2 separate regions of the Homo sapiens genome follow, and region 1 is linked to region 2. Evidence: fine-mapped expression QTL. Tissue or cell type: whole blood. Region 2 holds a variant in brackets; the other region holds the start of a gene. All regions are shown on one strand. Distances are between the middles of the regions. Region 1 holds the start of ATP8A1 (ATPase phospholipid transporting 8A1). Region 2 overlaps ATP8A1 (ATPase phospholipid transporting 8A1).

What was found. PIP is the estimated chance that this variant, and not a neighbour inherited with it, causes the effect.
Region 1: it holds the start of ATP8A1, and the variant in region 2 is fine-mapped to the expression of ATP8A1 in whole blood (INTERVAL, PIP above 0.99).

Annotation. Positions count from the first base shown.
Region 1 is chr4:42,649,480-42,665,576 of GRCh38, forward strand. It overlaps ATP8A1 (ATPase phospholipid transporting 8A1), which reads right to left and starts at 7,626. Exons shown (of 37, transcript NM_006095.2): 1 at 7,346-7,626. The coding sequence starts at 7,394. ATP8A1-DT (ATP8A1 divergent transcript) reads left to right here and starts at 8,044. Exons shown (of 1, transcript NR_186688.1): 1 at 8,044-8,868. RefSeq lists enhancers at 6,813-6,862, 7,853-8,062 and a silencer at 7,353-7,822.
Region 2 is chr4:42,626,923-42,643,019 of GRCh38, forward strand. ATP8A1 (ATPase phospholipid transporting 8A1) reads right to left here. Exons shown (of 37, transcript NM_006095.2): 2 at 73-187. Among named protein-coding and RNA genes, the nearest start is that of ATP8A1, 22 kb to the right of the region's middle. RefSeq lists a silencer at 46-95 and enhancers at 9,364-9,413, 11,989-12,038, 12,269-12,388, 15,055-15,104. The variant A/G (reference allele first, on the strand shown) is at 8,772.

The DNA.
Region 1 (16,097 bases), 23 kb after region 2:
ATCACAATGTGATTATATTTGGATGGCATAGTTTGTGATGAATTTTACTCTCTCCTGCAAGACTTTCTGAAGCATGAGTTTTTCCCAGTAAGCAGGCAGTACTTCTATCAAGACTCATAGTTAAGCTCTTCCATTAAAAACAAAGCTCAGAGTTATCCATTCATTCAACAAATATAGAGTGGTGGCTATGTGGCAGACAAAACTCTAGGTGTAGAGGGTACAGCAGCGAACAAATCTCACAAAAACGCTCCTTTGGGGTGCTAAGGTTTCAGTAGGAGGGTACTAGATTTAGTACATCTAGATTTAGCTCTGAGTATTTTACAAATTGGATTATAAGGCATTTTCATCTTTAGGACATAGATTCATTCATTTAACCAATGCCTACTATGTGCCAGGCAATGTCCTCATGGGGAGCAATATATCAGTGGACAAACCAGACAAAACCCCCTGCCCTTAGGGAGCTTACTACCCGGAGAATACAATCATTGGAAGGTTTGGGCTCCTTTCGCTAAGAAGTAAAGAATGAAGGGGAAAGTGGTGGCCTTCATGTCATTGACATTCCAATGAAACCATGTGAATAGAGACCCACGCAGCAAACATTTCGTTAACTTCAAAAGTGTCCTCTGACCTTTGCAAACATTCCCACAGCTGTAACATTAGGTATATGCTTCAATTCTGTTTTTGAAATGACAGAAAAAACAAACCATGAATTCTGCACTGAAGATAGAAAACCTAAAATAATCAGATCTAATACACTTATATCTCCAGAATTACACTAAGTAAAATGACACCTACTTTGAGATTTTCAAATATTGATGACATGCTGTATCGCTATACTCATACACACCTTCTCACACAGTGCCACTTCAGGTAAAACTGAACTCATCTCCATACTCATCTCCATGTTTCCTTTGGGACCTCCTTCATCGACCACAGCCTTTTGTCCCACCACCCATTTAGCTGGCACACAGCTGGTGCATAATAAGTGGTTTTTAAAGGAACAAAAACCTTAGTCATCTTTTACCTGGAATAGCGTCCTAAAATTTTTCCTTTAAGGACAGCTTAAATTACTTTTTATTCCTTTTGTTACCTTTTATGTAAATAAAACATACTATTCTACATAGTTACAAACATTTTAGAGTTGCCATTTAGAAAAACAATTCCTAAAACAACTTCTGGATACATCGTTTAGCACATATTTTACATAATCAAATAAATGTCATTATATTTTAGCATTATAGTATTCAACAGAAGAAAACACAAACCACTGGATAGGTATGTGAAGTTTTTGTGTGTGTGCATTTCTTTAGTTCTGAACAATTTAATCCTTATTATATGTAAAGTATGAGCTCCAGAGCAGTTTCTATGTTATCCAAGCAAGAGCCTTTGGCAATCTGAGAACTTCACTGTGACTGATTCTGTTGTCTGCCTGATATAGTTTGGCTGTGTCCCCACCCAAATCTCATCTTGAATTGTAAATCCCACAATTCTCACATGTCGTAGAGGAACCCAGTAGGAGGAAACTGAATCATGGGGACAGGTCTTTCCCATGCTGTTCTTGTGATAGTGAATAAGTCTCACAAGATCTGATAGTTTTATAAATGGAAGTTCCCCTGCACAAGCTCTCTCTGCCTGCTGCCATCCATGTAAGATCTGACTTGCTCCTCCTTGCCTTCTGCCATGATTGTGAGACCTCCCCAGCCATGTAAGTCCATTAAACCTCTTTCTTTTGTAAATTGCCCAGTCTCGGTACGTCTTCATCAGGAGCATGAAAACAGACTAATACAGTACATTGGTACCAGAAGAGTGGGGTGCTGCTGAAAAGATACTGAAAATGTGGAAATGACTTTGGAACTGGGTAACAGGCAGAGGTTGAAAAAAGTTTGGAGGGCCCAGAAAGCAGGAAAATGTGGGAAAGTATGGAACTCCCTAGAGACTTGTTGAATGGCTTTGACCCAAAATGCTGATAATGATACAATGAATTCCAAGCTGAGTAGTCTCGGGTATGTCTTTATCAGCAGTGTGAAAATGGACTAATGCACTGCTCAATAACCATACACCCTTTTCCGTTTGTAACACAACACTGGGTAATGTGTCCAGCTGGAAATTTCCATTTCCCAGCTTGCCCTGCAAGTGGAAACCAATGCAAAATAAGCATTAGTTTTTGTGTGGTGCTTTCTGAAAAACCTGTTTGCCTTTCACCCTTCCATTTTCTCCTGGCTAAAACTATTGTACATGATGGCTGGCACCCCAGCAACCATGCTGTGACTTTATGGAAGACAAACTCTCAGGACAGTGAAGCAGAAAGGCACAAGGAGCCAACATCCCTTATGACTTTGTGTAGCAGGCACAGCCAACCCTGTCTACCTCCACACTAGTTTTACAGGAGTGAGAAAAACTATTTTGTGTAAGCTACCATTATTTCAGTCTGTTTCCAGATTTCAAATGCTAAGTTCAAACACCCATTTGATTTATCTGGGGCAGCTAAATAAAGAGACCTAAAATTCTTAGTCTTCTGCTTTATCTACTCTTGCCTTATGGCAAATTTTTCCACTATCAGGGTTTCAACTATTGTCTCTCAAGATTCCCAAGTTTGAGGTTTCCCACATCTCACCTAAAAATTTCCAACTACCTTTAAAACATGTCCATTTGGATGTCCCCGTTACCTCAAAATTTGAATTAGTATCATCTCTTATTTTATTAGTCCTCCTTCCCAATTTCCTTGTTGTTTAATAGATTTTCTCAACCAGTCAAGCTCAAGACTGTAATGGAAATTTCCTCAAAATGTGTTTCACCAGCACCAGGGTATCTTGGGAGGCTCATTAAGAATGCGAATCCCCAAGCCCACCACAGATTTACTCAACTAAATCTTCACAAGCCAGCCCAATAAGATCCCTGATAATTTATGAACCTACTACCAATGTTATTACTAATAAAATATCAATATGCTATTACCAATAAGATCCATGGTAACTTATTAATATTAGAATTCTAAATTATTGTTGAGACTTGCTTTTTTCAAAAAAGTCCTTCTCTCTCCTGCCCTATGTTTACTAAATATTCACTAAATAGCAAAGTCCTATAATATGATTGCTATGATTTGGCTGTGTCCCCACCCAAATCTCATCTTAAATTGTTGCTCCCATAATCCCCAAGTGTTGTGGAAGAGACCTGGTGGGAGGTAACTGAATCATGGGGGCAGGTCTTTCCCGTGCTGTTCTCATGACAGTGAATAAGTCTCACGAGATCTGATAGTTTTATAAAGAGCAGTTCCCCTGCACACGCTCTTTTGCCTTTGCTCCTCCTTCACTTTCCGCCATGACTGTGAGGCCTCCCCAGCCATGTGAAACTGAGTCCATTAAACCTCTTTTTCTTTATAAATTACCCAGTCTTGGGTATGTTTTTATTAGCAGCCTAAGAGCGGACTAACACAATGACCTTTGTGACCTCATTTCCTACTATTCTTCCCCTCACCGTTCCTAATTCCCGATGTGAAACTGAGTCCATTAAACCTCTTTGTCTTTATAAATTACCCAGTCTTGGGTATGTTTTTATTAGCAGCCTAAGAGCGGACTAACACAATGACCTTTGTGACCTCATTTCCTACTATTCTTCCCCTCACCGTTCCTAATTCCCGATTCTCTCCTGCCTTGGGGCATTTGCTCTGGCTGGAACACCCTTCCCCCAGATCCCCACCAGGCCAACTCCCTTATCTCCTTCATGCCAACTTTTCAATGAGGGCTAGTCTAACTAACCTACTTAAAATTGCAATCCATCCACCCACCTTAAACATTTTGCTTTCTCTTCATTTTCCCCATTTGCCACACAACAAATTCTATAATTAGCATATTTTGTGTGTGTTTTGTCTCCTGCCTCACTAGAAAGTAAGCACCTCCAGGGCCATGCTTTTCCTCTTCTGTTAACTGATGTATCCCAAGTGCCTGTAACAGTAGTTGAAGTTCAGTAGACATCTGCTGAATGAGTTAATGATTCAGTCAGAAATCTGATTCCTCCCTTCCCATTCTCACTGTTCCACTCTAATACTAATTCTGACTTTTGTCATTTTAAGACTGTTTTGCAAAAGAGTCTATCTACCATACCTTTTCCTCCAAACCAGCCAACACACTTCCAGACTTAACTAAGTTACTACTTTTAGGATGTCCCTCCCTTATAACGATGTGGCCCCCAACTGGCCCTGTTAGATATTATATATTGGAGTTAGGCTTAAATAAGAAATTAGATTCAATGAACTCTAAGAACCTGTTCAAATATTCGGTCCTGTGTCCAAATGACTCACCTTGGCATTTAAAATGCTTTGTAATCTGGCAGTAATCTACCTATCCAAACTTTTAGCCTGCTCCTTCCAAGTTTCCCTCTGCTCCCGGCCAATTTCCTTAAGAACTCTGAAATAAGCCATGTTCACTTTCCCCATTTGTTCTTGTTATGACTGTCTTCAACACTCTCCTAACTACAGAAATAGATGTCAGTATCCTTTAGGATCCTGCTGCTCAGACTGTGATCTGCAGGCCAGCATCCTTCAGCATTACATTCTTGTCAGAAATGTAGTAACTCTGGCCCCACTCCAGACCTCCTGAATCAGACTCTGCGTTTAACAAGATCCTCAGGTGATTCCTATGAACCTTCGAGTTTGAGAAGCACTGTGTGAGGGCTCATCTCAAATCACACCTCAATGAAATGTTCACTCAGCAGGCCTTATGTTCAGTAATAAGTATGTACTAAATTCCTAATCTTCCACAGGTCCTGCGTCCCCCACAGCATGCACAATATTTAATTAACAACATCCCCTCTTAGACTATTTATTCCCTCTTTAAGTCCTTTCTCCCCAGTTTGGTTGTAAACAACTTACAGGCATGACAGTCATACATCTGGCCAATCTGGATGAAGGGAACAGAAACCCATTCAAGTCATTTCAAGGGGGGGAAAAGAGCTTATTTTAATGCTACTTGGGAACTAGGGCTATAAAATTCGGGAGGGCAGGCTCCAAGGTCTCGCCACCCTCTCTCAGGATCTGTGTCTGCCCATCCATTCCATTTTCTTTGCTATCTCTCTACTCACTCATAGTTTCTGCTTTCTTCTATCAGCAGCATTCCCATGACTTATTATGGCCACCCATTCTCTCCCATACCAGCCTATTCACCTCTGCTCCCTTCTGCTTTTACTCTAAATCTCTAACTTTAATGTTTTCAAGAGAGATATGATTAACACAGAGACTCTTTTTGAGCCAAACCACAAGGTTACAAGTGTCTGAGTCACATAAGAATTGGTTGACCCTGGGTCAGGAGCCAACCATAGTCCAATCAGCTGAGGCCAAAAAGGCTGCAGTTCAGAACAAGGCCCTCTAGGCAGCAGGGCCTCTCTCAAAGGAGAATATTCCTTAGGAAAGGTAGGACTATATTTTTTAGGAAAGAAATATTTCCTAGGAAAGAAAAGTGTGGGCAGAGCAGGCAATGAGCCACAACGCCAGCCCCACAGAGTCATTATTTGTCTTCACCACAGTCCCAAGCACATGCTGAAGCTATAATAAACTGGAATCAACTAATCTCAGGGGAAAGGGTCATTCACTCACCAAGCACCACTATGGCCCTGACACTGTGCTGGACGCACAGGGAATACAAAGATTAAACAAGCAGCAGTCCTTGTTTTCCCAGAGCTCTTAATCCAAATGTGTCACTGAACTAGTTACTTGACCTTGGGCAAATTACTAAACCATATGGGCCACAGTTTCCTCAACTATCAGATGGCACTCCACCTTCACCAACCTCCAGGAGTGTTGTAAGTTTCCATAAAGTAATCTTTGTAAAAGTACTTTGGAAAATACACAAGCCAATCAAGAACAATACTGCAGCCCTGTAATCCCCTCACATGCCACAGGTTTTGCAGTGCTCTCAGACTTTTTCTCTTCCCCTTATTTCCCACAATATAGGACCCATCAATTGCTATTATTTAAAAGAACACCACCAACTATTACCATTCTACTTTCACTATCTCTATGACTAATTTCACTCAGAAGTGTAAAAAAAATGAATTTTTACAGTGTGCATTTTAAAAGTATAATGTATTCAACTGTGTATGTAAAACTATAATGCCCTATATAAGTATTTTTTGGGTATTACAAATGACAGCATGTACCGAATTCCTATGTAGTACACAGGCCAGTTTTGAATCTTGCTTCGTCTTCTCCCCACAGCAGTTTCATTTAATATTTCCTAAATACTGCAATCAGAAAATTTCAGGGACCCTATTTTTACAGGGAGCCCCTAAGGAGAAAAAATGGCCTGTCTCCATCCCTGAAATCCAATTCTCCTAACTTATATATTTTTCTAAAACCACTTCACCACCTGTCTCACATTAAAAGATGGAGGTGGGGAGGAAGAGTGGGAATCAGCGATGATGGCAAGATAGATTTCTGAAAAACATGTTATTCCACCCTCTGCAGGATTCAAGTACAGGTTTATGGGAGAGGACAAACAAACCTTGGGATATTTACAGTCTTGGCTTTGACGCGAGCAAAATCAAATAATATTTACAGAGTGCCTGCCACATGGCAGGCAGGATGTTGAGGGCTCCTCGGAGACGATGAAGAGTCTGGGCCCTCGGAAAGCTTACTTGCTTCTACCCCGGAGCATCTGTTGCTCAGTGTTGACAACCATGGCCATTCAAGAGCTGGCCCCAGGTGGAGCAAAGAAAACAGCTTCCACCTGGCTGAAAAGTCAGCTCAGCTGGCCGAAGTGAGGGTTTCGGGCAAAAGGGAAACACAAAAACGAAACCTCAGACGCGAGCCGGTGGGACTCCGCTGCAGGAGGCAGAATTGCAGAAGCTGTAATGCAGGGAACCCACTCGGCACCCGACCCCGATGAAGGCTCCCCGCGCTTCGAGAGCCAAGGGACTACGGATCAAAGGATCCTGCAGCCGGGGAAAAGCAAACTCGCTTCGCTGGGAGCTCAGATAGGGGGTTGCAAAACGGTGGGCGCCGGAGGCAGGGGCGGCGGGCTGGGGATCTGCTGAGTGGAAATCGAACTGGTGGGGAGGGAGGTGGGCAGGGCGAGTGAGCTCAGTGACTGGGACCTAATGGTCACACTGCGGTGCAAAGCACGCCTCGGGGCTCCCGCGGAGAACACCCATTCGAGGGTACTGGAGCCTGGAAAGGGTCTGCGAGTACACTGGGGGCAGCGCGGGGGGAAGGGTCCCCTAGGGGCCGGGCGCGACAGTCGGACTGCCGCCGGGGAAGAGGTAGGATGCGGTCTCTTCCAGGATAAACACACACGCTCACACACACACTCGCTTCCCGACCCCGGGCTAGCCCCGAGCCTCGGCGGCCCCTTACCTTCGGCGCGCGAGCGGATCTCCGACACGGTCCTCCGCATGGTGGGCATCGCGGCGGCGGCTGCAGGTGGGTCCTCAGCCCGGACTCTGCACCTGTCACGGCGTGGTACACGCGGGAGACCCGGCTGCGCCGCGCAGAGCGCTCAGCTGCAGCCTGGGCCGCGCCGCCGCCCACCTAGGGCAGAGCTGCCGCCGGGCGCGGCCCCCGCACGCCGACAGGAGGAGGAGAAAGGCAGCGGTGGCGGCGAAGGTGGCGGCGCCCGCAGAGCTGGGCGAGCTCTTGCTGCAGCCGCGGAGGGGCGGCTCGGCGAGGGGCGGAGCTCGGGCGCCGGCGCCGGGGGAGGGGCCTGCGGGGCTCGCGCTCCCCCTCCCGCGGCCGCTCAGCAAGGAAGGCGGGTGAGGGGCGGGGAGAGCCAGGGGGAGCCTCCTTCGCCCCGCCCCGCCCCGCTTCGGACCGTATCACGACTCAAAGGGGGGATCAACTCTTAGCCTCCTTAGTCCTCCAGCGTTTTCGCTCCGCCCTGTGGAGTTGGTTGACCCGGTTCCTCCTCCAGGCCACTCGGACTCTCTCACATCTTGCTCAGAAAGGAAAGACTGCTCTGGCTGCTGCATTCTCACGAATCCCCTCCCGCTACCCCTGGCTTTTGATCGCAGTGGAGCCGCCCGTCGTCCGGAAAGAGCTGTTGGGTCTGAGCCGGCAGGCGAAGGCGAAAGGGTCTGGGACTACAAGGTTTAGCTCCCAGCCAGAGCAGGAAAGGAACGACTGACTGTTCGCCATCTGGGTGTAATTCTAACCTCTCTGCACGCCCAGCCCGACTCGTGGCCTGAGCCGCACTTGTCCTCCTGCCTCGCCCACTAGCAACAGGCTGCCAGGTCGGGAGGCCCCTGGTGCCCATGGTGCTCTTGTCCATGGGGCTTGGGTGCATCTGGGCCCCGCCTGCAAGTGGGCCCGGTGCATCTCCCTAGTTCAGGCTCTGCAGCCTGACAAGGCACTGAAATAGCAATTAAGCCAACTAAGTATTGGCCCAGGTGGTTCACAAAAGACTTTTTTTTTTTCTTTTAGTTAAATCTGCATAAAGTTGGATGCAGTCGTTTTATCTGCAAAGGGGAGAGGAGTCTTTGTATAAAATCCATAAATATGTTAAATTTTAATTTGCCGATGTCCTTCAGACTATCATAGCCTCATTACCTTTTATTTTGTATACCGAGATCTATGCTAAAAAGTTGTCAAAACAAATACTTCACCTTCAAGTTAAGATGTAAGGTTTTGTGCTGTTTCTGGCGAGCTGCTGAACTGGCAGGAAAGGAATAAACCAGAAACAATAAATCAGAAGCAATTTGCTTCTTCCCTCATTTCATGCTCTTCCTCCAGCAACCAGCGAAAGAGATCCTCACATAGAGGCCTTTTATTTGAGATCTTTTCACATCCTGAAGGGAGAGAGCTGGAGAGGTTTGACCTGAGAGAGAAGTGATTATTTCCAAGCCTCAGGAAAAAATGAAATAAAATCTGCTAATAGCGTCCTATCTCCATTTGTGGTATTTCTTCTGCTTCCTGCAGGTAGCACTTGCTAATCAGAGCCCTGCCCTACATTAATACTCAGGCAGTCAATGCATATTTATGAAGAGCCCACTCTAGTTGGCTCTGATTCAGAGGCTGGAATTAGAACAAAGAAAATGTATTCTCAGTGTTCATGGAACATCTCAGGGTAAAGCAGGACTCAACAATAAATGAATCTATCTGTTTCAGTGATAGTCATGATTTAAAGTATGGTCTTCTAAACGTAAAAAATGAACACAGCTTTATCTGGACTGTCATCACTGGGCATTTTTATTTCTTCCAAGGCCCAGGGTCTCCTTGTATAAAGCAGGCTTGCTCTGGCTTAATGAACATGAGTCTGAAACAAAATTAAAGGGCTAACATAGCAAGGAAAATAGTAAAAATAATAATCAGCTTTAAAAGTTAGCGAACAGAAACTGGAGGAAATGCAGTGCTTTTCTGATTAACATTTTAGGTGTAATTCTATATGAAGCCATAACCAGTTCTTATTAAAAATCAGTGCGCAGCAGCATGACGATAGTTCATTTATGAGCAATCACCTTTGTAATTCCTAATTAGTCCTCAGATGGGGTTGAGGTTCAATTCTGCTTATTTACAAGTAATAACTGAAGGAACTCCAGAAGTTACCTCTGTTTTGTATAGAGCAATCCATTTTTTACATGTGTGTCCCATTAACTCATCAGCAAAGTTGAAAACGTCATTGATACAGGAAACAAGTCACTTATACAGAGAAGAATATTGCATGATATAGTCTATAGATTACCGTGTGTCCTTTCCCTGATATTATCACTTTATCCATAATGGCAAGCGTATCCCAACTACCTTATTTCTTAAAAACCACTCATTCCTGACTGCTAGAAATCACACATTTTTATTGGTTCAGAACTTGATTGAAGTTGAGGATTGCATTAATCTGCATCTGCTTGATTTTAAGGCTCTCAGATCGTCTCACCTTCTATTGTGTGAGAAGTGCAATGTGCCAGCCCCTGGCAGGGAACTCCGGTTCCAGCCACATGACTTTGTCACGGAATCTGTAGTAGAATTCAGATGTCAGCAAGATCATTTAAAATCTTTCAGGTCATATGACTATACTGCTGATAGACTTAGAAGGAAGAGGGTTATTTAAGGACAACTTCCCTAAGATCCAGGTTTTATCCTCCACAAAATGTACATTGAATACGTAACACGTGTGAGGTGCTGAGCCAGAGAACTAGGTTATAGAGGCACTTAATGAAAGCTAAACAGCAGTAGCAACAAGATGGCTAATATGTCATGCCAAATAGACAAGCAGCAACTATGGACTTTGAGAGAAAGCTAAGTTTCTAAGAGCTAGGGTGATCAACATTGTTGAGCTAGATCTTAAAGTAGGGGTTAATTCTATAGAAATAAAAAGGAGACCTCTTTCTAGTGGGAATGCTTGGTAGTCATTGTTTAATGAATGTTTAAGGTCAGTGGAGTGATAGAGGAGCATATATATTTGGCAGGAACAAAGAGACTGACTTGACTACAGTAAAGGTTTTTCACTGGGAATCCATGTATGGAGACTAAAGGTGCCAGATTTGGGAGAGTCTGCAATGTCATCTTAGGATACTTTTGTTTCCTAATGAGCCTTCTAAATGAATGATGCTAGGAATCCCAATATGCCCACTTTTAAGCGTTTGTGGGTTTTTTTTTGACATTTTTCCCTTGAATTTTGCCACAAATTTTCCTCAACTTTACTAAGTAAATTATGTTCTAATATAATGAACATTGAGTGGCAGATGTTCATTACATTCCCAATAACTGTGCCATGTAGGACTAAATGGGAAAACATGTCCTTAGCTTTCTCTTTGAATTAGGATGGCTGTTTTAAGTCATTAGAGAAAATAAAGTATGTGTAAATACGTCTACTCTGTTCTACTGTCACAGCAGGGTGTGGACATCAATGGAACTTCATTGGCCTACAGACTCAGGTTTAAACTTCATTCAAATCAGAGGTGACTGTCAGGTACCCAGAGTTGGGTAAATGATAGTTGAAATTACAAAGGAAAAAAATACAATAAAAGAACTAAGAGGATGTCACTACTGGAACTAAACAGATTGGAAATCAAGTTTTCATGCCAAGAAAATTAAATAGGAGAAAGAATAGTCTTTTCAACAAAGGATGTTGGGACAACTGGATATCCACATGCCAAAGAAAAAAGTTGGACCCCTGCCTTGTATCATACACAAAAACTAACTCAAAATGGATCAAACACCCAAAATGTAAAAGTTAAATTATCTATAAAACTCTTCAGAGAAAAATAGTAAATATTTATTAACTTAGATAATAGTTTCTTACATATGGCATCAAAAGCACAAACAACAAAAGAAAAAATAGATAAATTGCACATCATCAAATTAAAAACTTTTGTCTGGGCACAGTGGCTCATGCCTGTAATCCCAGCACTTTGGAGGCCCAGGTGGGTGGATCACTTGAGGTCAGGAGTTCGAGACCAGCCTGGCCAACATGGTGAAACCCCATCTCTACTAAAAATACAAAAATTAGCTGGGCGTGGTGGTGGGTGCCTGTAATCCCAGCTACCTGGGAGGCTGAGGCAGGAGAATCGCTTGAACCCAGGAAGCAGAGGTTGTAGTGAGCTGAAATCGTGCCACTGCACTCCAGTCTGGGTGACAGAGCGAGACTTTGTCTCAAAAACAAACAAACAAACAAAAAAACAAAACCAAACTTTTGTGCTTCCAAATACATCATTAAGAAATTGTAAAATAACCCACAGAATGGGAGAAAACTTTTGTAAACCATATAGCTGATTAGCGACTTGTACCTAGATTATATTAAAAACGATTATGAGGCTTGGTGACATGGCTCTTGCCTGTAATCCCAGCAATTTGGGAGGCCAAGTAAGGAGGATCATTTAATCCCAAAAGTTCTAAACCAGCCTGAGCAATGTTGAGACCTTGTCTCTACAAATAATTAAAACATTAGCCAGGCGTGATGGTGCACGCCTATGGCCCCAGCTATTTGGAGGCTGAGGTGGGAGAATCACTTGGGCTGGGGTGGTCGAGGCTGCAGGGAGCTAAGCCATGATCACGCCACTGCACTCCAGCTTGGGAGACAAAGCAGGAACCCATCTCAAGAAAAAAAAAGAACTATTATGATTCACTAATAAAAAGACAACCCAATTTAAAAATGAGCAATGAGCAGAGGATCTGGATAGTTATTTCTCCAAAGCAGATATGCAAATGGCCTATAAACTCATAAAAAGATGCTCAATGTCATTAGCTATTAGGGAAGCGCAAATCAAAAACCTGAGATACCACTTCATACTCAGTAGAATGGCTATGATCAAAAAGATAGATAATTTTGTGTTGGAGAGAATGTAGAGAAGTTGTAGCACTCATATACTGCTGGTGGAATGTAAATGGTGAAGTTGCTTTAGAAAATAGTCTGGCAATTCATTAAATGTTAAACATGGAGTTACCATATGGTCTAGCAATTACACTTTTAGGTATACACCTAAGAGAAAAGTAGATGTCCACACAGAAATTTATACACAAATGTTACATTATTCATAATAGCCAAAAAGGGGAAATAATGCAAATGTCCCTCAAGTGATAAATAAAATGTGGTATATTCATACCATGGTATATTCTGCAATAAAAAGTAATAAAATAACACATGCTATAACATGGATGACTTTGAAAACATGCTAAGTGAAAGAACCAGTTACAAAAGCTCACATATTGTATGATTCCAATTATATGACATGTCCAGAATAGGCAAATCTACACAAACAAAAAGATTAATGGTTGCTGAGGGATGGGGGGTGGAATGGGAGCACTGGGAGATGACAGCTGATGCAGAGTTTCTTTTTAGGGTAATAAAAAATATTGTGATGGATGCACAATTCTGTAAATATACTAATGGATTATATTAAGGTGAATTGTATGTTATGTGAATTATATCTTAATAAAGCTGTTAAAAATTTTTTAAAATTAAATCTCCAAAGGCATCAGCCAAAAAATGACCAAGTCCAGAAAATCCAAAAGAGATATCAGAGGATATTCCTATCTTGGGAGGAATTGCACTTATTAATTACTTGATATTACCTGGTTTGTCATTGTCTGGGACCCCCAAAATTATGAATTGGTCCCCTTTGGGAGAAACTTATAGTCAAGTAGGTGAGAAAAGCTTGCTCACTAATTTGTTAACTCACAATGCAGCTGGAGGTGCTTTGGAAACTCATGTCCTGGGGGTTGTTGGAGACATGGCTGAGAACCCTGCTTGTGATTGAGATTGAGGCATGGAAAGTGGATTACCACACAACCATACAATACATACACTAAGCAGTGCTGGCCACTATACTTCCAATTCTTTTGCAGAAGCACTAAAGAAACGGGTAAATTAATCTTAAGTTTTACATAATTAACATCTTTTAGTTTAACATTTAGGTTGAGATGTAAAATTCTATCTAATAGCAAAGCTGCCTGGTTATTCCAAGTGAAGATTAGGCTTTGGTATCTATAATCATGGGTGTTATATATTAATTTAATGCATAGTGTATGGTTAAAGTATCATTATACTGTTAGACTTGTAAGGGACTTTCTTTGCCCCAGCCTTCTTCATTTTGATTGCTTACTTTGTGTCACCACCTTTATATGCACAACCCTCCAATACACGAGCGAGATGTTTAGGCTCTGTTCCCAGAATGTACCTTCATTCTATGCACATTACTTTATCTCTACCTCTACCACCTGTGTACAAGTCACCATCATCGCTTGCCTGCCATACTTTCTAACTGGTCGCCCTGCTTCTATGCCTGTCTTCCATTCGTCTCACGGGAGCCACCATTATTATTATTGCTTTAAAACACAAACTGGTTCATGTTATTTCTTAAGACTCTTTGGTAGCTTCCCATGGCACTCAGGAAGAAAACCAAATCTTTATGATCCTGCCCTTGCTTGTTTCTCAGACTCAGCTTCTCTAGCCCCTCATTCGTCCACAGGGCTCAGATGATTCCAGCCTACTCCAGCTAATATTGCCCCACTATCCCCAATGCTAGACACTGCCACATTGCCTTATTCTATTTTTCTCATAGTACTTATCACTATGTGGAGTTTTCTTATTTGTTTGTTTACCTGTTTATGATAAATAGTTCTCGCTGCGTTTGTCTTGCTAATTGCAATTTGTTCAACCTTAACAACAGTGTCTGTCATACAGTCCAGGATTCATACATAGTTGTTGAATGAATGAATGTAAATGAACTGGATCCCTCAGATTGGAAACTGGAAATGAGTAGAAGGATAGGTAGTGTTCCATCTGAAGAGATAATAAGTTATGTCCTTCATAAGTATGTTTATTGGGGTATATTATTTTGTGAGAATTATTTGCATGAAATAATTTAGAACATATTTGCTTTGGAGTATTTGATATCAGCAAAACCTTGTGCCACAAAAATTAATGTCAAAATTAAGTGATCAAATTTTAAATATAAACCAATTTCAACCAAAAGTTCTAAATTTGCTGTCATTGAATAATTTAGTCACTTATTCTTACTCATAATGATAAAATCAATACTTTTCCCTCACAACTATGATTCATTTCTCATACCTGTAGTACTACTGTCTTTTCAAACACCTTAGCAAGGTCTTAATACAAAGTTATAGTGTCTTTAATGTTATTATCTTCTGCATATACTGGGTATTTCCAACAAAAAAGTACAACAATGTTTTCTTCAATATAATTGAAAATATTCTGCTCCTGTTTAAATGAAACTAGAGTTTCAAAATGCAGTTTTGTATTATATGAAAGAACTCTTGAAAGAAATTTTTAAAGAATTAGTATCTCCAGGATATTTAAAATCAGGTTCAACTCACACACAATCTTTTGGGAAAAACACTTATTGAGTATTTTATTCAAAAAGTAAATGCACATTCAAAGGGAAATGATCTGCTGTATCATAATATCTAGTGTTGGATCTTACATTCAATAGCGTTATTTCAAACAGATGAAAAGAGATTAATTAAATTATTTTTTTTTTACTTTAAAAGTTTCCTGCATATCAGAGCCAAGATGTGAAAAATTCATACTTAATTAGAAGTGCTGCTTCTTTTCCAAAGGTTACCAAACAGCATTTCAATAATGCTGGTTTCTATACAAAGTATTATTATAAAATAGTCCCTGAACTTGTGTATAAGACAATCAACATAATATTGTCATACATTTAGACATTTTTAAAAGCAGCTTTATTGAGGTAGAATTGATATACAATAAACTTCATGTGTCTAACATGTAGAATTTAAGTTCTGATACATATATATAACTGTGAAGCCATCACTACATTCAAGATAAGAAACATATCCATTCCTTCCAAAAGTTTCCTCTTGACCCATGGAATGGTTCTTATCTGTAACTAGATAAGCTTTTTCATCAGCATTCAGCACAACTTATTGAGTGCCCACCATGTTTTAGATAATGAGCAGGATATTGGAAATTGAGTGGTCAGCTGAAACAGACAGGATCCAGACTGTTATAGAATGTATGTTGCATCAGGAAGACAAATACTAATCAAATTATTATGTGAATAAATATAAAATTACCACGGTATATTGTACTCTGGGCAAGCTAGGCTGTATCTGTATATAATGATTGTATCCCCAAATATTTCTGGGCCTCCACACCTATATCAGAAACCCTTTAATGTTGCTTATAGGGCTTTTGCAATGTATCTAAAAATTTACACTAAACATTTTGTTTCTACTGCATGTTATGTCTTTTATTTTGAAAACAGTATGGTATGATGTTTGATGTATGAAAAGGATAACCAGTGGAGAAAAATATTATTATATAATTTATTTTCTTGATGTTGACCAGAAAGTCAATATTGAAAAAGAAAAAGGGAAGGAAAAAAACCTCCCAAGAAAATCTTGCTTTTTTTTCTCACCATGTCACATTAGGTGTTATTTCAAGGAGACAAAGTCACAATAATGAGGTAAAAAATATTGACGGGGGAAAGTCCAGAATTTTTATTAAAAATCAAGCATAGGCTGGGCGCAGTGGCTCATGCCTGTAATCCCAGCACTTTTGGAGGCCGAGGCAGGCAGATCACGAGGTCAGGAGATCGAGACCATCCTGGCCAACATGATGAAACCCCATCTCTACTAAAAATACAAAAATTAGCTGGGCATGGTGGTATGCACCTACAGTCCCAACTAC
Region 2 (16,097 bases):
AAGCATTTTCATTTTGACCTAACCAGCTCTGCTCTGCTGGCTGGTCTCATGGCATTCTTTGGTAGTTCTTACCTGACATGGTTATTGCAGAATTTTGTCAGCTGGGGCTGGTTGATGAAAATAGTCCTTACTTCCTCCTGGTCAGCCAGTGAGGTCTTCTCTGAAACATCATCTGTCTTCTCATAACCTTAAAAAGAGATCTTCTTATTGTACAAGAAATGTTTTATTGTCCAGACCAAAAACAGATTTCATAACTAGTCTAGAATATGAAATCTGTTAAAAGCTACTTGCTTCCCCTTAACTGTTGTTTCTTTTATAATAAAAAGTAACATCCCCATATTTAACATTTCTACTAGATTTAAAGGGCAGCATTTAACAGTCATGTAAAAACTGAGCCATATCAAAAACAAGACATAACATCAACTTTCCATTTCCCCCGTAAGTGTTCAACTTCTTTCCTTCCACTATATAAAAAGATGCCCAGAAGTAAACCTTAATTTTAAACTGGTTTAAATTACAGTTTTAGGTAAAACTAACAAGGTAATTTAAAATATAGTCAAAAATTAAAGCATATGCATTTAATACTTTTCTGGGTTTTTTCCCAGATGAAGACAGAAGAAAAGATAAATAGTAAGGTTTAAATAGAGAACTGCAACAATGATCCAACTCACTATCATCACCTATTTTTTTCTCCAGTTAGAATTCATGTTCACAAACGAACTTTAAATTTCTCAAGAGCACTTCAAGTCATCTCATAATCATTGAAACAACAGGATACATTCAACTGGGTACTTTGTTGCAATGTTGACAAACACTTTAAAAAATACATACAAGTTCTAGAACAGAATATCAACAGATAGTATTTTAAACAGCTTTTTGTGTCTTCTAGTGAAAAATCAAAGGGGTGACAACAGTACTGTATCTCCAAAACCCATTTTTCTTCTCTTTTCTGCCTAGCCAATGCCAACTCCTCCCATAAGACCTGCTGACATGTGGTTTCTTCTGAAGTGTTCTATGATGTTCAAGTTAGGTAAAACGTCTTTGGGTTTCCACAGCCCTCTGAACCTCCCCACTCTTCAGCAAAACACTTACCAGAAGGTTTTGTTGCTGCCTGAGTCAGGTTCCCCCTACCAGAATGGGAACTCCCTAGGGCCATAGAGGGTGTGTTATTCATCTTCTCAACACCAGTGCCAACAAACAGCAGGTACCCAATGTTTGCCGAATACATATACCCAATGAAAAATGAGTGGTTGACTGTTTTTTGGGGGCAAGAAAAGCTGCTCCACCCACTGATGAAAAAACAACTGTTGGCCAAGTGCTGGTAACAACTATGTGAAAAGCTGGCCTGTGGGGTTTGTTATAGTATGAAACCAGAAAATCACTGAGGTGTTCTACAAAGGTGAGAAGCATGAGCACAGGGACTGGGGTGTGAGAAACGGTGTCATGTGTGCAGGGGAGAGCAAACAGGGCAGTGCTGCTGGAGCACAGACAGAAGGCGGACGAGAAACCACGCTGAGGAAGCACGCAGGCCAGGTCCCAGAGGACCCTGCGCTCTGCTTGGCAGCCAACCACTGAAAGCTTTCCAAGTAGGAGGGGCACAGGGTGAGAGGCACATTGTATCCTTATCACCCTGGAGGTCACATGGCTCCGAGTAGATTCTGTCACACCCATTTTGCAGTTTCAGACCCAATCAGCAGCTTTGCTCACAGTGTTTCCCTACACCATGTTCTAAACACATACTTTTCCCTCTAGTTTTGTATAATTGAAATTTCACACATGGGTTATTGAATAGAGGGAGATCAATCTTTAAAAAAAATTGAGTCCTTTATTAGGTCTTCCTTCGTGGTAGCATGAAGACCAGAGTGTGCTGTTCCCCGCCTCTGGATTAGAGAGAGAGCCTCAAAAAAACCAGCTCTTCACTCCACTCTGAGCTGATGTTCTCAGGTTGTGTTGTATTTACTTTATATAATGGACTTTTGAGTGTTGTATCTACTTTATGTAATGGGACTTTTGAGGGCCCCGCCCTTGGATGTCCTTAGCTGAGGAACTGGGTGTTACTCCATCCAGACACACCTACTTACATTGAGGTCTCAAACGCTGCTGGGAGAGCACTGGATATTGCTATCCACTGAAAGCAATTGGATACTGCATCTCCCCCTCAGATATTAACTTGTATTCAAGAATTTCTGTGGGGCAAAGGATTTTCCTTGAACTAAAGGGACTGGAATTAACCCCATCCCTTATGTGGGAATCAGAGTAATTAAAACAATCCTAATGGATTAGTAGGGGCCCAACCTAGGTCAGATAATAAGGGATCTTTAAAGAGAAAACTCACCAAAATGAAGGGGAAAATCTAAACTGTAAACTGTTGCCAGGGGTAGGACCATCGAAGAGACTGGATGGCTCTGAGCACAGGATTTCACAGACAACATAGGCTTTCTTTACCCAGGCATTACAGAAAAGCTTTGGAAAGATATTGTACATGAAGCTGAATGTATGCAGAACGCTTCGCTCTGTTGTGCCCTGACCAGGTGTGATACTGAGGAAGGGAGATCTGCACTGAAAGCAGGGAGTGAGGCTCTCAGCCAGTGGAGCTGGTAGGCACCTCTCCCCTGTCTCCTCAGCAGTGACATGGAGAGCCATCAGGCACCTGAAGCCCACTCCCAGAATGTTTGAAGGCCAGAGATTGCAGGTATCACCTTCTGTTATGTATCCAATTCTGTTTACTCCTAGCAGGTGACAGCAAGCTAGCAGTAAACAGGCACAGCAACCTCAGAGGTTCTCAGAAATATCTCAGTGAACATACTTGACCTCAGAGATCCTCAGGAATATTCTGATGAAGGTACCTGGGAAAAAGACTAGCATTTTTGCTAATTTGGAAGTGAGAGTTTGTAACCATTATAATTAAACTCTTCAATGCAATCATCTTACATTGCAGAAATGGGCAACTTAGGTCTGGACTTAACGTAAGTAACCTGTCAATCCAGACTCTTTCCATGTAAAGAGAAACGGACTCTTCCATTTGATTAATGAACCAACACTTTGAGGAAGGTAGGTAGCAATTTTGATCTCACAGCTCTGGGTTAAAGGTGAAAACACATTTGCTACATTCAAAATTGAAAGTTATTCAATATGCACCAGATAATTCTATTTTATGATTTCATTTTTTTATTTCCTCTGCATATCACCACCTTCATCAGCTATAATAACCACATAAAGAGCTACATGTGCATACCTGGGCAATGCCTAAGCTGAGCTATTAGAATGGTGACAAAGGCAATCAAAATAGGAGAATCCTTTACCACCCTGCCCCAAAGAGGGTCAAACTAAGATGGTATTCCTTCTTATACATGGAGTTCTATTCCTCGTTTTAAGGAAGGAACCCATGTCCCTTGCTGTTTAATAATTTAGAGGGTTCGTTCACATAAGTCATTAAAATTTACTAGTAGCTTTTAATCCACCTGTCTGAACTCCTAAGGACTACTGAAAACTCTGACGCTTTTATGTCATCCCCTCACAGAAAGCAAGGGGAAGGCGAGTGCCGTTCTTGATCTGGTAACAGTTCTGAGTCTTCCTGGTAGGTCAGGCCTTCAGAAGCCTTCTTTGTCTGTAAAGTCATGCTAAAGGTGAACTTTACTGAGAGAAAGAAACGCATCTTAATCATGCTCTTTGGTATCTCTCTCAGCTTTTCCTAGCACAATCTTGTGCAAAGAGGACATACAATACTCACCTATTTAACGGAAATGGACTTCAAGACATTCAACAGACTGCTTCTGAGATCCACTCAGTGCCCCACCCATTTTCTCTGGGTTCAGACTGAACTCTGAAGCCCACCATGCAATGGGTTTGAACTCCGTATTAAGTATAGTCGAATGAACAGTATTTGGTAAATGGCAAAGCCAAGAATAAAACATGACCTTAGATAGTTACTTACTTTCACTAGGCTTCAGTTTCCTAATCTGTCAAAGAGAAGTATTCTGTGTTCATGTCCTGGAATAGTTGGTAGTAAATGAAGGAATATGTATGCAATGTACTTAAAACACCTAATATTGTAATAGATTACAATACATGTAATTTGTATTACAATAAATGTAATAGATATTGTAAATGTCTATTATACTTAAAGAGCTAACAGGGTGAATAATGATACAGTCATAGGCTGAGCCTCATAAAAATGGGAGGCGGCTTCTGGGTTAGAGGTTGAAGAATGTTTTGGGGTGGTAATTCTCTACCTTGTGGTGTAACTGACAATTCACCTGCTTCCCTTGTTACATGGTAAGTTACCTATTATACCTCTGGTTCATAGTAAGCCCTCAAAGCCTGATGAATTAACAAGTGAGCAAAACCAGATTAGTAATATACTAGAAACAGATCTCTTTCAAGTAGACATATGTTGCCCAAGCCTGTAGGACTGATGTCCAAACAACAATTAGTAAATTTATGATGAGAAGTAATTGCCACAGGAACTAGAGTAACTGAAGTTCCATAATCAATTCAACTCTCCCAGATTGGCCTGTGTAGAAGTTAAATGACCAAAGTAACCCACCCACCAGTGGTTAGGTGAACTGAGACTCTCATAGCATTAGGGAAGTACAGCCTGATGCAACCAATCCTGCTAAAGGGGTAGATGCATCTGTAGGACCAACCTCTTAAAAGTTTGTTGCAATATCTTGACAATGAGGCCATGATACTTCAAGTCTGTTGGCTAATGCTTCTATTCCCTTCTGCAGAGCTGAGAAGAGTGCTGATAATGTTTAACCCCATGACTTACCCCTTCCTTGACCATCTCCATACCCATTTCCACCTTCGAACACAAATTGATATTTAATCTTCCAATGGGATTACCAAATCCTGTAGGCCTAGGAACCAATCTAGCCCCCTTGCAGGTGACTTTGCTCCTGTATATGTTAGTCTTAGAAAGAAACGAGAAGGTATACTCAATTCGCAAATTTCCAAGTTGTTGGAGACATCTCAAAATGGCCCACAAGTACAGACACACAAAGTAAATGATGATAGTAACACCAGATATATGCGCCTTCCTCACATTTTCGATTCTCCAAGAGACTAACTCAGGCATTCACCCCAATGTCCTTGGTGCTCAGACATTTGACATCCACTAATGGCATTATTAGTCTTCTTAAATTAAGTTTCACAGAGCAAATTGGCAGGCAAATTCATACACCTATCACTTTGAGGAATGGAACTGAGCAAGGATCCTTTTCTATGTATGAAAGCACATTTGTATAGCAGCTTCTGGGAAATCTTAGCTTCTTTCAACATTGTGTTCTCCAAGGTCTGTAACTTCTTAAAAACGGTCAGAATCAAACCAGTTCCCAGAAAAATGAATCTGGTCTAGCTTTTATTGAAATGAGCAAGGAAAAGACTTTTCCTTATTTATGCCAAATAATGTCTGTAATATTCTGCTTGATTCCTATTCCCCCTGCCAGCAGAAAAGCAATTTTGTTTTCTGAATTGTGGTTTATCTCAAGCAATAATAAAATTATCCAGTATTTGCTATGCATATTTTAAACCAGAGACTCTAAGAGGCCAAATTTTGCATTCTTGGTCGTAAAATGGCCAAATGCTATTTCTAAACTTCAGAAGGACCAAGAATTTCAGTATAGGGAATAGTCACATGTAACTTTTAACTACTGAATATGTTAATAAGATTACTTTGTATTACCAAATAAAAATATACAAGCAACATCCTTCTGGTGACTATTTTAGCTTCCAGCAATAATTTTATTTGTCAAGAAAACAAAGGATGCTGGTGGGTCACTATCCTAATTATGACTCTGAAGTGAGCAAGTGCTCATCTTCCCCGAACAGTGTTTCATCACTTAACCCACTTAGGGGCTGTGAGGTGAGCTCAAGTTCTTCTACCAATTACCCACATGACCCTGCACAAACCACTTCATCCCTGGGGGTTATTCTCTTCCTTTGTAAAATGGGGAAGCCAGGCTAGGCTAATAATCTGACAGTTACTCTCAGCTCTAAAATTCTGTGAAATTAATATCTGCTGAGCAGCAGGCAGAAAAGAAATCAATAGTTTTGTTCAGAAGAGCAGGAAAATTCTGAAAAACAAAGTAAAAAAAATTTCCCTTCTTGAGCCTTTATTGAGATGTTTCACAGCAACAGTTGCCTTCCTTAATCTGCAGCCAAAACTCAGTCACGAAGTGAAATGGTGCTTTGTGATGGTAACTCAACATCCATATTTGAAAAGCTAAGCAGTGACTATAATCAGTTGCCAACAACTACCTGGCACCTACTGATCAGTGACTACTGGGTTGCTGAGAATGACGACACAGAGTCTTCCTTTCTTCATCTGCCCAGATTCATCATCACATGCTTATATGCACACAGTACAATGTAACAGAGGAAAATGCTCAATAGTATAAGTGAAAGGCTTCTGACCTGCTCATATGAGAGAAGTATCATTTCTGAAATATTCCATTTTTCATCCGAAATATCATGATCTAATAAGACCTGTTGTTCATTCATTTGCTTATTCATTCATTCAACATACTTAAGAATCTACTATGTTTTGGGCATTTTAAAAATGTTATAGAAATAGCAGGAAATAAGATAAGGTCCTCTTTCTCAGGGACTTATTTTCTAGAGAAGAAAAAGATAATTACAGAACATGGTAAGAATGAGGAAGAAAATAAACAAGTGATTGTAGAACAATTGACAGAAGTCTCTGTGCTTAAGTTTCATTATGCATATAATAGAACTAATAACAGTATCTTACCTCAAAGGGTGGTTGTAAGGACCCAGCGAGTAAATATGAGAACAATGCCTGGCACGTAGTAAGAGTTTAGTAATGAATGTGAGCTATTTTCATTGTTGTTGTTATCACTGCTAGTGATGCTACTATAGCTGCTGCTATTTTACACTGAATGGTCAGAGAAGACGTCTCAAGGAGATGCTGAGTTGAGACCTTGATGACACATAAAGGAAGATAAGGGACAGTTGTCAACCCAAAAGGGGGAATAGCAGGAAAAGCCCTGGAGGGGAGAATGAGCTTGGCATTTCCAGGAACATGAGGGCCACTAACAGTAAACAGAGCATAAAACAAAAAGAAGCAGGGCCAGATTGGGAGAATAACAGCCTGAATTTATATTCTTTATGCAGTAGGAATTCACTGACAGGTTTAAGTAGAAAGACCATTTCGAGGACACTGTGATAATCCAGGTAAAAGATGATGAGTCCTGGGTTAGACTGGTGACAGAGATGAAAGGAAGTGGATGCATACATTATACTCTGGAGGCAGAGCTGGCATGAGCCATATAACCTCTTCATGATTGCATGATGCTCCATAGTACTACTGCCTGGTGCTACTCCACGCAAAAGCCCAAGACATGAAAGAAATGTAGGATTTTTAAAAATCTGACCCATAATGTTTTATTTTGATCACATGCTAAATTTACAATATTTTGGATGTGTTGGGTTACATGTATTGTTCAAATTAATTTTGCCCATTACTTTATTGTAGGATTGTAAATACAACAAATAATTAACCACTTAATGAATAGAATTCTCTTTACAGCCAAACAACCCTAATCCTTAGATACCATGCATCCTTTTTCTCATTATTACATGGTAATCAATAATGTTTAAAATACAGAATATAATCAAGGAGGGCATTAAAGAATCATGCCTAAGAATGAGAGAGACTGTTTAGGTCTACCAGTTATGAGCTCTGGTTACTTTAGACAAGATAATTAACCTTTAGCTACCTACGCTCTTACAAGAGTTTGTGGGGATTACATGAAATAATGCATGTGTAAAGTGCCTGGCTCCTCATGCATATGCAAAAATTCTAGCTATTATTTTTATTATGAAATCAGAAAGGCATACTATGGGAGAAAATAAATAGGCTATGTAGTCAGATGTATGTTCAAATTCAGATTATAACACTTCTACATGGGCAAATTATTTTATCATCTGAGTCTCAGCTTCCTCATCCATAAAATATGGTTAATGTGAGGATGACATTATGTTAGCAATGTAGCACAATACTTGTCATTCAAACAGTTCCCGTCACCCTATCCTCCCCACAGATTAATCTCGCCTTCAAAATACTTGATACGGGAAAACTAAAAGTCTTAAAGACTGTAATGTAGGTATTAACATTTACTTATTTTGGATAATATTTATAGTTGTGACCAGTGTAAATCAATATAGACAGCAAAATAATAAATTTTGCCATATAATTTGGTCAATTAATATTGAGTACTTTTTTTTTTAACAAAATTGTCATCTGTATGGGGTTATGCAACAGAAATGCAGGGGTGGTAGGTAGGAGGGAGACAAGAACAAGATACAAAATCACTGTTGCCTGGTAATACGGTTATAGAACCACTAAGTTTTTTGCAGACTCAACTTTATTGCAATTATAAGTAAGGCTGTAATTGGAATCAGAATATCTATTATATTATTTCCTAAACATATTTAGGAGAGTGCAATTATATAACCTTTCACTCAATGGTTTCCAATATTAGGCATTAAAGGGACCATATTAGCTGCTCAAGTTTCTTGACTTAGGTTGGGGTCATTAAACAAGCAGTCATGCTTGCAACAGTCAAAGAATCTAATAAAAGAATATTAACAGGGAAACTAGACAGAGACTTTACAAGCACAACTGCAGAACTTAGGTGTGATTAAAGTTAGGTACTACTAAGATGGAATTATTAGCATTAACCACTATCCTTTTCAAAGGCTTAATAATTGAAAGTCCTGAATATATATATGCACACATATGTATTTGT[A/G]TATATTGTTTTGATACAGAAGCTTAAGAATATATACATACACACATATATACATATATATACACACACACACACACACACACACACACATATATATATATATATATATATATATATACACATGTATGTATGTATGTAAGCTTCTTAAGCAGGTGCAGCAGCTCCTGGAAGCACATGAAAAGCTTACAGAAAGGTTGAGGAAGATCTAAGGCAGCTTGACTAATGGAATCAGTTCAAGATACCACAGATTCAGTCCTCTCTGTGTTCAGCCTTTTCATCTCTCCAGATGGCAAATTGACTGTGATTGGCTTAGCATGGGCCATGTGCTTACTTTTAAGTCAAAGAGGGGCATGGTAACTTGATGGAGCAGTCCCCTAAGACTATGGGGGAAGGGGGAGTTCTCCAAAGGAAAGCAATGGGCTTAATACACACACACACACACACACACACACACACACACACACGCACACACACACACATAAGCTTCTTAAGCTGGATCAAAACAATTCTTGGCTGAATAATTAAGATGTTTGTATTTACTTTGTTTTTAGTGGTATCTTAGTACAGATAGTTCATTTAATTATAAATGCAGAAGCAATTACTGCAGTGACAAAAGAGGCTTGAAATCCCATGTTCTGCATTGTTAGAGCAGAACAGTCACTTCAAATGTTCGATTGTGAGCCTGACAGCAGCTGTTCAGAGACGGGTAGGGGGAGAGAGAGAGAGAGAGCTCATGAAAAGAAGGAACCACTACTCTGGAAACAATAAACTGGGTGCTTCAAAGGTAAAGACTTACAAACCACATTTTCAAATATGGCACTGAAGAAATCAAACACCCTTAAAAGCATGGAAATTAAAATGGAAACTATTTAGCAATACCTCTCAAATTTCTAGATCATGACAACAGTAGCCAGAGGAAAAATGGAATTTTCAGTTGCATTAATACACCATCCCTGTACCGAGTGTTAATGCAGACTCTGTGCAGTGGACAATCTGCTCTTTCCAGCTCGGCATCTGCTTCTCCTGGAAACAGCCCATTGCTTTCCTTTGGAGAACCCCTCCCCCAGAGTCTTAGGGGACTGCTCCATCAAGGCTCCATGCTCCTCATTGACTTAAAAGTCAGCACACAGTCCAGGCTAAGCCAGTCAGTCAATTTGCCATCTGGAGAGATGAAAAGGCTGAACACAGACAGGAATGAATCTGTGGTATTAGTCAAGCTGCCTTAGATCCTCCTCAACCTTTCTCTAAGCGTTTCATGTGATTCCAGGAGCTACTCCACCCGCTTAAAGGATATGCTCAGCCTATATATTATGGAGTCTTGACAGAATCATTTCAGTCCTCTGTTGGAAGCCAAGTCCTGTCCCAACACCCATCTAATGTAGGTGGGCAGTGATGCCCTACCCAGACTGGCTAGCCTTCTACAAGAAGCTAAGCCCTGTTCCCTGTACCTCAACCGCTAGCTGGCTTTTCTGATCAACATGGAATGATGACCTGGAACCACAGTGCAATTTTCCTGCTTAAGAATAAGCAGGCTACCTGGAACCTTCCCCAACAGGCCCTACTTGCTGGATCAGATCTCTTCTGATGTTAACAGCTGCCCTAAACAAGCTCTGAGTCCAGCACGTTCTGGGACAACTGTGGATTGCAACTCTAAGGAACTTGCACAATAGCCAAACGGTTTTCCACATCCCTACCTTCTTCTCCATCACCCTCTTGTTCATGCAACTGTGATGCTAGCTCATTACCTCCAAGTCCATCTGAGTTATAACAAACATTACATACCCTTGATCATGTAAAACATGGTTATCTCCTTCAACAATTGATAGCTTTTCATTATACAAAAGGGTTCACTTTTTAAAAGAGTTCTAAAAATGAAGATTAGGAGACATCACTTGTCATATGGAGACTTGCTCAAGGTTAGAGAGTCACTGAGCACCAAAGGCAAGACAACATTTGGAAACTGATAAAGTCCAACCCATATCTAAAGCTCTGACACTGATAGATAGATTCATGCATTCATTCAACAATTAAATTTGACCTCACCTCTCCCTTTAACTCTGTCCTTTGCTGGTCTATTACACCTCAACAGTATTTCCAGTTCAGACATTTCTCTACCCCTTCAGCCTTGTTGGATGCTACTTAAGTGTCAAAATACTCTCCTTGGCCATTCTTCTTTGAAGGGATACCTACAAAAGTTTTGAATATATTGTCTATGTAAAAGACCATCATACATCTGACACTAATCTTTTGAGCTATATGCTTAGTTCAATAATAATAAATGCTATGCATGCTTATGTACAGAGGATGGGACAGGCACAAGGGTATGGGTAAGTATCTATTAAGTATGCTACTCTAATATGGGGAAGTAACATGAATGACCCTTCAGGAAAGTCCCTTCTGTGCACTAAATGTTTGCTAAATTTTCTATTTCAATATAAGGCATCCAAAAATTCCCAGAAATTTATAGTCTTGTCTCTATCCTAATAACCACTAATATATTTTGTCATCAGGACCTGTCATTAGGAGACATGGTAAATGACATGTTTCTTTAAGTGCCTTTGAGGGAATTGATTTAAAAATAAACAAGTGTAAAACACACCACAGCAGTTATTGTCTAAAAAAGGAAAAAAAGTAATGGCTTAACATTTCTTGAACTCACGCTAAATTGCGACAAGCCCCTGAAGTAGCACTACAAATTCTAAGTGGTGGATTCTAAAGAGTACTCCTGACATTCAGAAGAAAGGATATCCTTAAGCAGTATTACAAGGAAATCTATAGTATGCCTAGAGTTGGGCGTCACACATAGTAAACAGTCAATCTTGTTGGCAGCCAGCCTTGGATATTAACCTAAAATAATAGTCATCTTCGGCATGCTGAATTGCTTGGAAATAATAAAACATTTACTAACGCCATTTCATGCTTAACTGGAAAAGGAACCAGAACAATGAAAGACAGAAGGAATTTAATGACATCTCCTTGGGAATAACCCACAGATAACTTTATCTGACAGAAGAATTAAATAGTATATTTGCCAACATAGATGTTTAAAAATTGACACAGAAGCAGACTGCACCAGAAACGAGGGGTTGCAACCACCAGACATCTACCAAGCATCTCCTAGAAGTCTCAATTAGCTTAAAGCACCACTGACTTGCAGTGGCATTAAGTTCACCTCTAAAAATGCACAGGAAACAAGGCAGACTGACACTACGGACTGGATTCTAATCCAAGCAAAAGTGGTAAAGTAGTAATGATACTCTTCAAAAAATAACTGTATCAAAGAGTTTTTGACTGTCAAAGGGGAATACCAGGCCATGTCAGATATGTATTCTGGATTTCAGGAGGGCACATTTCAATTTATTATCAAGACCCACAAAGTGCAGAAGCCCCAACAGCTGTCCAAACCCACATGCTGAGTAATTGTGGAAGGCCCTGACAAGGCGGGGAGGTGGTCAGGGAGGGTTGAAGGAGTTGTATTTAGAGACCACTGCTGCTTCACAGGAAGTACTTGAACAAGCACAAGATTAAAAAAAGATCACAGGAAAGGTTGAAAATAGATAGGTTCACATGTTCAACAGTGAATATTAACAGATGCACAGACATCTGAGACTGGAGGAAAGGTGTTGTAAAAAACGTTAGAGACCACTCGATTTTTCCCCCTTTCATCTGGGACACAAAGAATTGATGAGATGAGCCTGCTGCCTAGAATAGATGATACAATGTTGTTAACAGATAATAAAAGGCAGAACTTCTCAGCTCCAACATCTACTTTGCTTCAATCGTCTATCAAGGATAATCATCTTAAGACTGGAAAGGTTAGAATGAACATTAGTTCGAAGAACTAAACCAAAAGACAAGGTAGGGGATTATTTTAAGAGGGAAAAAAAGAAAAATCAGCACCTAACTGCTCTAAATGAATTCCTAGCCTATAGTAAATACATATATGTATGTGTAGGTATATATAATTATTTTCTAACCTACAGAACTGTGAGAACCTGCAAAATAGTTAAGTGAACTGTTACTAATCAGAGAAGAACTATGGTGAATGAGAGAGGAACTAAAAGATGAAGACAATTTAGTCATCGTTCAGTATGCATGGGGGATTGGTTCCAAGACCCCTTACCAAATCTGCAGATGCTCAATTACCTTATATAAAGTGATGTAGTATTTCAAATAACCTACACACATCCTCTTGTATATTTTAAATCATCTCTCGATTACTTATAATACCTAACACAATGCCTACACGTCATTTGCATGGATTCAACATAGTACTTGGTGTGTGGCAAATTGAAGTTTTGCTTTTTGAAACTCTATGGAATTTTTTCTGAATACTTTTGATCCATGATTGGCTGAATCCATGGACGTGAAACTCAGGGATAAGGAGGGCCACCTGCACTCTCCCAGTGTTCTAAAAAGAAGATGGATCATAAAGATCATAAACCACTGTTTTTTAAAATGGGAGTCTACAGATGTGCTTTCAAAGTTCACAGATTTACAAAATGAGATCCACTGCTTCTAAAGGATTTTTGGGAAAGATCTGAAAATTCAGAAGTTAAAAGAACATTTCTGAGAATTCAGTTAAACATGGAACTGAGCTTAATTATTTTGAAAGCAGTGTTTCTCATACAAAGAATATATTCTCAAAGACCAAAAAGAAATGTTTCCTCTAAAAAAGGTCCTTTACATTAGATAAGTCTGAATAATAATGCTATTGGCCAATGAGTTTGAGGCCAATGCTAGTCAAACATTAAGTGCAGCTGATTAACAGACTGCTTAAAAGGGAGGTGGTGACTGGTGGGGATCAGTAAGCCTCCACTGACTAAATCCCTTTTCTTTCTTTTCAAAAATAGAACCCTCAGCATCTGGATTTCAAGAAGGCTTTTGTGTAGGCCCTATTGTTATAAATGAAGACACACGATTCCATGATTATGAAACAATGTGGATTCACAACTATGTAGCTGACAAACATACATGGAGGGGTCTCACATACTAAAGCTATTCTTTGGCCATCCCTGCCTGTGAGCCCTTCTGAAAGAGCCTCCCCTGGGTCACCCTTGGACTCGGTCTCTCCTTCCATCTCCTGGCCTGGCCTAGTACCTGAGCCCTAGGTGTCAGGGTCAACATGGAGCACCTGACCAGCCAGGCCAGTCAGATCCCTTTTAGAGAATGTGGATTTGTGGTCAGTCAACTCAGCACCAAGTAAGGAACATCACGGACAGGTGGGCTGGAGGGAGCATCATGGCACTCTGAAGCCACATGCATGCCAAAGTTAGGAAGTGAAGGAGCAGACGTACAGAGACTTCCCCCTCACCAGAAAAAAAAAAAAAAAAAAGAACAATGAACCTCTGCTGTGATACAAGAGGATCCCTTACAGTAAATGCCTAACTTGGTAAGGGCTCTGGGTGCAGACTGCCTGGGTTCCAATGACAGGATAAGGACACATGACACGATTAATCAATGTACAGATGACATGAAAAAAATCAGAATTCTAGAAGATTTTGAAAGGCTGAATAAGTTGAAGGTTCTATACTAAAGGCCTAAAGAAGCAACTGTGTAAATACAATATGGGAGACACCTGACCCAGCAAGGCATGTAGAGCATAAATGTTTTTACTGCTTTTATTGCTTTCTTATCAAGAAAAAATCTGAGGTGTCTGAGAATGGAATGGGCTGTCTTAAAAGGGTGTGTGTGGGTGTGTTCCCTTCACTGTGAGGTATTCAAGCCATATCAGTTACTGTGTTGCATTAAATGACTTCTAAGTTCCCTTCCAACTCTAGAATCCAAGGATTCTATCCTTTTAAATTTCTTTTTTTTTTTTAAGACAACTATAAGCTTATTGAGAGAACCACTGATACAGTGCAGGGCGCAAGTTTTCCGCATTTTGTACATGGAAAAGAGTATTATTAAATTAGTTACTACAAATGCTTGTAGGATAGTTAACCCCATTGACTTCAGTAGCAGTGTGTTCATAGGAAGATAGAACTGAATTACAGCTCTGAATGAGCTAGGCCTTAAAAAGTACTGGGGAAAAAAATGAATGAACAATGATGAAAGTTATCTGAATCATTACAACTTTAACTTTTAGAGCTATTTACACATTTTATAACATACAAACAGGTAGATATATGATTAGTTCCAACAGACTAGTCCTCGTTTTATTACAAGAAGCAGAAACACCCAAATAACATCATTATGCTGCTACATTAATCTCAGAATGAGTCAGTGGAGTTTAACTGGCACCTGCTTCTTATCTCCATTGTGACTTTGCAAGAGAGGAAAACAACTCACCTTTGTTTTTTTTTTTAAACAAAGTCTCAATCATCAAAAACATCCAGTGAAGAAACTAAAGTCTTCCTGCCCATTACAACTTTGGTAGGGACATCAGTATAGCACACACAGCAACATACACTGTCCACAAACAAGACAAGTGTTTTATCCTACAGAAACAGACATTACCCAGGATAAGGAAAGTGTGACACTCTCATCTGCCTGTTGATAACACAATGCCACAACCAGGTTTGCCAAATATCCAACAAATCCATTAAACAAAGCTAGAAAAAGAGGAAACCCACAAAAGAGCATCCAAGAACTCCAGCACACCCTAACGAGACTCTGAGAATGGGTGTGGCTCTGGGATGGCTCATCTACCACAAGCACTGTGGGCAGTACTGAAGAACCCACTAAGACTGGTCAGATGAGACTGGCTCAAAAAGCCAAGAATCATTTTCACAAAACAAAGTAAGGAATGGTCGGCATCCTTCAGTTTGTCAGGATGTAGCTAAAGAAGACGACAGAAACCTCCACTAAACAGATTAAGATAGGATGTGTGAATGACAGCTGGTGGGCTGCAAAGACTGAAAAGACCCAGCACATTGCTCAGTGACATTAAAGCAATGACACCTACACATGTGTGAGATTGCCGCACGCCCTACTCAATCCACAGGTAGAACAAAAACGATGCGAGGGTGGATGAAACAAATGCTTCAAGAACCTTCTAATGCCATAAATAAAAATCACTCCATGCAGTAAGTACCTCCTAATGCAACATTTTACCTCAAGATGCTACTACTACTAATTAGAATCATGAAATTAGCTCCCTAGACCTGCTGGTATACCGTGACCACTGCCATGCAAGGTGTGATGGGCATACAGATGAATATAAGAAAACTCCACGAAGACTTCAAAACCACTCCAGCGTTTTTAAAAGTTCAGTTTCCAAAATCTGAACAGCCTGATCTTATCCCAGTCACTCACCAGATGCAGATTCAAAAAACATTTGCTTAGCACCTACTTTATAGTAAGTGCTTTCATTTAATATATCCA